2 linked regions of the Homo sapiens genome follow. The protein of the gene in region 2 interacts with the protein of the main gene of each other region in a pairwise test. Each region holds a gene or a part of one and is shown on either strand. Other genes may lie near its edges.

Region 1 (3,648 bases), on a different chromosome or scaffold from region 2:
GAAGCGCCCCAGGAAGGACTCTCAAATGTCAGAATCTCCTGGTTGATTAATAAACATGAAGGTACCTGGGCTGCCCTCCCGGATTTCCGATTCTTTAGGTCTGGCTGGGGCCCAGGAATTTGCATCCTTGACACGTGTTTGTGCTGCAGATGGTGGTCCTGGGGAGCCCGGATTGAAGACCACAGTTCCAGTGTATGCTGGGGGTCCTAGCCCACCTCATGCATAGCTGGCCACAGTGCCAAGGGGGCCTAGAGGGGAGCCATGGGTCCACGTCCGAGTCGGTGCTGGGCAGTGTCCTTGGTGGGCGTCTCTGGCTCTGTCTGTGGTGGTCTGTGTGTGTGAGGAAGCAGGAGTGTCTAAAGGCCCCAGCAGTGTGGCCCTCACTGGACACACTGGGATTCCACCTGGCTCAAACCCTAACCCAGTCCTCAGCCTTCCACCAGCAACAGGTTAGGGAGAGATGGACAGGGTCACTCTGCAGCCAAGACTTAGACAGTGGCAGTCAGCATTGCGGGCGGCCCAGTTTCTTTCAGGTCTGGCCCACTCTCTTCCAACCTGCTGGTGAGGCTGTTGGCTTCCCCGTGTGTCCCGGCTGTGGGATGGGCCGGTCCCCTCACCTACCTGAGCCTCAGTTTCCTCATCTGCAAAATAGGTGTGCTCATGGCACCTGAACTCAGAGGATGTGAGAAGTCAACAGGGTAACTCATGTGCAGTGTGGGGCCTGATATGTGGCGTGGGGTATGTGGTCAGTAAATGCCAGTGATCGTAATTAATGCTTATTTGTTCATTTTCTTTCTTTCTTTCTTTCTTTCTTTCTTTCTTTCTTTCTTTCTTTCTTTCTTTCTTTTTTTTTTTTTTTGGAGACAGGGTCTGGCTGTGTTGCCCTGACTGGAGTGCAATGGTGCAATCATGGCTCACTTAAACCTTGACCTCCTGGGTCCAAGCAATCCTCCTGCCTCAGCCTCCCCAGTAGCTGGGACCATGGGTGTACAACACCACACCTGGCTAATTAAAAACATTTTTTTTGTAGAGTTAGGGTCTTGCCCTTTTGCCTGGGCTGGTCTCAAACTCTTGGCCTCAAGCAATCCTCCTGCCTTGGCTTCCCAAAGTTCTGGGATCACAGGCCTGAGCCACCGCACCCGGCCTTAATATATATCATTTTGACCATACAATACAGCTTCATCTTGAACTGGGCTTATGTGTATTTTGTGGGCAAATTTCTTCTCTCCACAGAGGAATCTTGCTGACTCTGGTCTTTGTGCCTGGCACACAGAAGGTGACATCTATGACTGCTGTGCCTGAATCCCAGCAGGGGCCTGCTCTTACGTGTAGCGGCCTCCGCAGCCCCACTTGTGAATTGTGAAGCTGCCCTGGCCTGTTCATTAAGTGCTCACTGTGTGCCAGGCATGGAGACAGAGGAGTGGACCAGAGAGATGGAATCCCTGGCCTCAGGAGGAAAGCAGCCGGGTTATCCGAAAACTCCAGCATGGGGGTGCAAGCCATTTGTGGTGGTCTGAGCTGCATCCCCTTAAAGGCTTCTGAGGCCACTGCAGGCCCAAGCCAGCCAGGCCCAAGAGGCACAACCTCTGCCCTCCTCCCTTCTCCTTCTCCTCCCCATGATGTTTGCGGTCCTTCCCAGGGACCCTCGGTCTGGGACTCAGGGGTGGCCACCTCCTCCCTGTTGCCTTTGGTCAGCCCAGGCTCTGCCTTGACCTTGCCTGCCAACCTTGACTCTCCTCTGCCTTTTCCCTAATGCCCAGAATGGTGCCGGCACACAGGAGCAGGTGGAGGGCAGGAGCCCACGGCTGACGCCTCTGTGACCCCGAGCAGAGGACGGGTCCCTGGCTCCAGGTTGGGGTCAGCAGTTGGGTTCTTGGGTGTCTCTGGTTGTGGACTGTCCTGGGGCCCATGAGGGCCCCTTCCTCTAGGGTGAGGAATATTCTCTGATCATCACTCCCCACCCAACTCTGCTCAACCAGGGTGGGCCAAGCTGCTGCCTTCAGGAGGCAGTCACTGGAGACCATCTTGGGACAAAGCTGGGGGTTGTGTGATGGCTGCGTGGGGACATGGAGGGCCCACAGCCAGGCACAGGGTGAGCCACAAGGAGAGGAAAGGACCAAAGCAAGGGAGGGGCTTCGGCCGTCCCTGTACATCCCGTGTGCGTGGGCATGAACCAAGGAGGCCTTTCCTTTCTCTGACAGTGGAGCAGAGCAGCAGCAGGAGAGACTGAGGTGGACTCTCGGCATCGGGATGGGCATCTGGGCAAGAAACATCACCTGTGTTATTAGGAGAGGACTCGATCCCCTGCGGTGCGGGGCTGGGTCCTCACTCGGCCTTGGTGACCTTGGGGAAGTCCCTTGGCCTCTCTGAGCACCAGCTTGCTCATCCTTCAGACCTGCCTTCCAACTCCATGGATCTAAACAGGAGAAGCTTTGCAGTCCGGGGAGCGGGCCAGAAAGACAAAGGGGTTGTTTGGCAGGAGAGTCCCTGGGAGGGAAGGAGGGCTCAGGGGCGAGTTCTGCGGTTCTGGCCCCTTCCTTGGGCAAACCTCCTCTCACCGGCTTCACTTTCCGCCTCTGGAAAATGGGCAGTTTTGGAAGGCCTCAGTGTTGAGGAGGATTCGGGGCATATGAAGGGTTTAGCTTGGTGCCTGGTTCTGAGGGGAACCTTTATTTATTTATATTTTTATTTCTATAGAGATGGGATCTCGCTATGTTGGCCAGGCTAGTCTCGAACTCCTGGCCTCAAGTGATCTCCTCCCATCTCGGCCTCCTGAAGTGTTGGGATTACAGGCATGAGCTGCTGCGCCTGGCCATGAGGGGAACCTTTCAAAACTTTCCTGGCAGCAGCTGGTCCTTGGGGTGCAAGTCTTCCGCATCCAGGGCAGGTGGCCTGTGGCCACCCCCTTGTACAGAGAGGGAAGGGGCAGCTGGTGAATGGCAGGGACTCACCCAGGCCCCAGAGCCCAGCCTCCTCCTCACAGGCTCTTTTTGCCCTTTCTGCCTCCTTGGGCTCCAGGTTAAATGGGACCCAGCTTCTCCCTTCCCTACATCACCCCACAGAATTCTCCCATCACCCCGTGTCAGGGGAAAGCCCTTTTCCCCGGCAGAGGCCTTGGGATCGGACCCAGCTCCTGCTGCTCCCAAGGCCTGTCTTAAACCCCTTTGGGGCAAGGCATGGGCAGTGGAGGGGGGTGGTGTCCTGTCGAGTGGGCCGGGCCCATGTCACCCTCTGAGAGGCCACAGGAAGGAATTTGGACATTATTCGAGATCCGTAGGGAGCCGTGGAAGGGAGGTGATGGAGACACATTAGATTTGGGTTTAGAAAAATTGTTGTTGGCTGCAGTCCCGGAATGGACTGGCGGGGAAGAGGGGTGGTAATGAGACCGAAGGTGATCATGGTGATGAACTGGAGTATCGGTGGGGATGACATGAAAGACAGATTCCAGATATATTTAGGAGGAAGACTCAGTAGGACTTGGTTTCCCTCCCCTCCCCTCCCCTCCCCTCCCCTCCCCTCCCCTCCCCTCCCTTCTTTCCCCTCCCCTGCCCTCCCCTCCCCTTCCCTCCCCTTCCCTCCCCTTCCCTCCTCTTTTTTTTTTTGAAACAGAGTCTTACTCTGTCACCCAGGCTGGAGTACGGTGGCACG
Region 2 (3,748 bases):
AACTGCACAGACCAGGCGCAGAGACTGGCCCTCTGGGAGTGACAGAGATGAGCCATTTCCCAAGACTGTGGATACTGTAGAAAAAGAGACAGAGGGTCAGAGAGATACATAGATCTGGAGAAAAAGGAAGGATACAGAAAGAGACTGATGACAGCAACTGACACACAGACATAGACTGAAGTTCTGGAAACACACACTTTCACCACTCACTGCTGGGAATGTAAACTTCTCCCCGCTTCATCGAGAACAGTTTGGGCTTATCTTTCAAAATAAGAAAGAACATATAATGTAGCTACATTTTGCTTTTAGGAACTTAACCCACAGGCTTAGATATTCCTGTGGAAGTAGATACAAGATTGTTCTATCCTGCCGTAGGATGAAATTAGTGCCGTGATCTTCCATTAGGAGATGCCACAAAATCAGAGTCCATCCATGCAGTGGACTCACACACAGCCCTAGAGGAGGGTGCGGACAGTCTCACTACGGACGTCAAACCACCTCTGAGATCCTCCAGGTGTACAAACCGAGACTCAGGGCAGCCTGGATGGACAGTGGTTGGTTCTGGGGAGGGGGGCAGGCATCGGAGGAGAGCCTTTGCTCTGCAATTTGAATTTTTGCCCATGGACATTTATCACCTGTCCAGAAGTACTTAGATCAGAACTATCAGAAATAAACAGATAAGGGTGGAGATGTATTCAGGAGATACATGAGAAGGAGCCTCAAAGCCTGGTCCTGCTGTGTGAATGCCACCCTCTTCTTGTTTGAGGCTGAGGGGGGGGTGTGTGGGGGAGTCCAAGGGAGGTGATGGGAGGATGGGAACAAGTGGCCTTGGGGCCTAAGGATACAGAGGGGCCCTGAGTTCACCCACAAGGACATCCCTGTTTGCCAAAGTGAGTCCAGGTTGAGGAATAAGCCAGCCCCATCCTGACCTGAAGGCCCTGCTCCTCCAGCCCCAGGGAGGGAGCTCCATCCTACCTGTGCCGTCTCCTTGGAAGACAGTCATGGTCAAGTTCTGAGGCGGGTCTGGGACAGAAAGACATGGAGACCCGCATCACTGTGAGGGCTGGGGACACTGGCCCTGTCTGTCCCCAGGAGCCGCATAAACAGGGAAGGCAGAGCCAGTGTCCTCCTGACCCCACCACCAGCCCAGATTCCGGGACCCAGCACCCAGTGTCCAGGCTTGACGCTCACCCCATCAGGGACCCAGGCGTCCCGGCCCAGCACTCACAGGACACGTTGAGATGGACGGTCTTGTTCGTGGTCACGCTGGCCCCAGGGAAGGTCACCTGACAGGTGAGGCTGGTGCCATGGTCCTGGGGCTGTGGGATGAGGGTGAGCACCGAGGAGCGGGTGGTGGAGGGGTCCAGGGGGGACACGGAGGTCCCTATCCAGGAGATCATAGGGGGTGTCCCCTGCTCACAGGCCCAGGGCACAGAGCAGGTCAGATTCTGGGGGCAGCCGGACTCCAGGGTGCCTGGGATGAGGATGTTGGGCCTGTGGGTCAAGGCTGGTGAAGAGAGGGGGACTCAGGATCAGGTCAGAGGATCCATGGTGCAGCCCTGGGGGGAGCTCAGGCTCTGGTCCAGCTCCTGCCCTGAGCCAACTCGCTTCACCCTAAGCCCTCTCCTGGGGCAGGGGCTCCATCCCAGCCTTTCCCTGCCGCCCCCATGACCTTTCCCTGTGGCCTTTCCTGGAGCCTGTGCCTTACCTGTCACATTCACAGAGAGCCGGTGATGTTTATAATTCCATTTTATACTTCCTTTCTCCATACGAAAGAAGTATCTCCCCGCATCACTTCTTCTGGCATCTCTGATGCTCAGGGTGCAATTCTTGGTATGTGGGTCCCCAAGGAGGTGGAATCGGTCCCGAGTCTCCTCCCACACTGCCCGAGCTGGGTTGTTTGTGGCCACTGGAGCATCCTGGTCTGTATTGGCCCCTTCCCGGAACCAGTAGCCATGAACTACTGGGCCAGGGTAAATCCAGCCATGCGAGGGGTAGGAGAAGGAGCAGGGCACATGGACACACAGGCCTTCCTGCACCGTCACGGAACTCTGCATCGTCAGCAGTTTACTTGTCTGTCCTTCCGCCCTCTCCCTCCCCCAGAGCAGGGGCAGCAGCAGCAGCAGCATGTCTGGGGTTAGAGGTGCCAGGGCCGCGAGGGAACGTCTGTTCCTCAGGGTTCTTCTCTCAGGAACTGCGGGCTCAAGACTTAGAGGAGGCCCTACAGGAAGACAGGGGCGAGGTCGGAACAGTGACCTCCTCAGAGGAGGAACTTTACACCCAGACACTGTCAGGCCCGGGTCAGCCCTGGGAGATCCACCGTCCACCACCCCATGTTCACTCCTGGGTCCCTGAGGCCAGAGCGGGAGACAGACTCACCCAGATTCCCACCCCATGCAGGGCCCACCCCACCTCCTGCCTCCCTCTCAATGCCCTTCCCCTTAGGTGACATTTTCTGCAGGGTGAAAATGAGTCCCATCTGGCCAGACCCCTGAGTCAGAGGCTGTGGATATCTGCGTAGCTCAGAGGTGGGACTTGGGGCCATGAGAGATGGGGGTGCAGGTGGGGTGAGCAGGCAGCCTCTCATCCCCCCCAAGCAAGCACGAGGTGGGCACCCCCTTTCTGCACAACGAGGTCAACACAGCAGAGCTGGACACTGTCCCCAAGGGGTCACTGTGCGGAGGGGAGACATGGAGGCTCCTGACGTCTGAGCTGTCCACGGCAGGAGCTTCAGTTGGGGGGCACAGGCAGGATGGGGTCACTCTCCCGTAGGTCAGGGGTTCAATCTCAGGAGGACTGAGCAGAGGGACATGGGGCTGTGGAGGTGAGGATTCTATGTGTTGATACACGCCAAGGACACAGAGGGGAGCCTGGCTCGCAGGAGGTCTGGGAAACTGAGGCTGTGACTGTTGTACTGTGGGGCTTGGAAGGGAGGAAATTCGGAAGAAAAGGGGCAGATTTCAAAAGGGAAGATATTTCTCCTTTCCTCACTGCACCACGAAGGGTTTCTTCACCACCGATGTCTCGCTCAGCCACACTTCCCTGGTTACTCCAGAACATGAGGGATCAGCTGGCCCTGGGGCTTTGCTTCTGCAAGCTCTGCTCCCAGGGGTCCCGGTGAACAGGAGATGTGGAGTGAGGACACCAGCCCCGGGGCATGCACCCTCCGCGATGGGCAGGATTTCATGGGAGAAGAAACATGCACCTGAATTCAGCAGAAGATTTTTTGTAACTGTGTGGCTGGGCTGGGAGGAACTGGGAGTATCCTGTGTGGTGGAGCCTCCTTAGACCGATGTCAGTTTTCTAGAAATATTTTTGGGAGAAATATAAGCCATATAGATAAAAATGTCTTCCCCCCAAGAAAAAATCTCAGCGGTTTACACATATGAACATGCTTAGAGAAACAGAACACTGGGGATGCCGCAACACCTCCTCTTTGTTACCCCACTTCCTGTCAGCCACACCCCACTTCCTCCTGAAGCAGCCCCAGCCTCACTTTAACGCTAATGGTCTCCATGCTTTTCTAGGTAGTTTTATCATCTGTGCACGTTGCCGTGAATACCTCAGGCCCCCATGTTTGCCCAGTCGCTCCCTGGGAAGTTGCAGCATCTCAACTGCAATGGTCAGAAGGGCTGAGCCATGGCTGACAGTGTTGTCCTGCATCTGTTCTGCAGGGCTGGGTGTCCACATCTGAGTTCTGTCTTGAGCAGGAGGGGCTCAGTCAGGCCTCTCAGCACTGCTCCCCTGG

What was found.
Region 1: the proteins of SIGLEC9 (region 2) and NCS1 interact in binary tests that used the Homo sapiens proteins (3 or more experiments, as listed by UniProt).

The regions. Positions count from the first base shown.
Region 1 is NC_000009.12:130,175,351-130,178,998, forward strand, and holds part of NCS1 (neuronal calcium sensor 1), read left to right. Parts: intron 1-3,648. UniProt on the Homo sapiens protein: Neuronal calcium sensor, regulator of G protein-coupled receptor phosphorylation in a calcium dependent manner. Directly regulates GRK1 (RHOK), but not GRK2 to GRK5. Can substitute for calmodulin. Stimulates PI4KB kinase activity.
Region 2 is NC_000019.10:51,123,356-51,127,103, reverse strand, and holds the start of SIGLEC9 (sialic acid-binding Ig-like lectin 9 isoform 2 precursor), read right to left. Parts: upstream 2,199-3,748; 5' UTR 2,130-2,198; coding exon 1,709-2,129; intron 1,508-1,708; coding exon 1,229-1,507; intron 1,024-1,228; coding exon 976-1,023; intron 75-975; coding exon 1-74. UniProt on the Homo sapiens protein: Putative adhesion molecule that mediates sialic-acid dependent binding to cells. Preferentially binds to alpha-2,3- or alpha-2,6-linked sialic acid. The sialic acid recognition site may be masked by cis interactions with sialic acids on the same cell surface.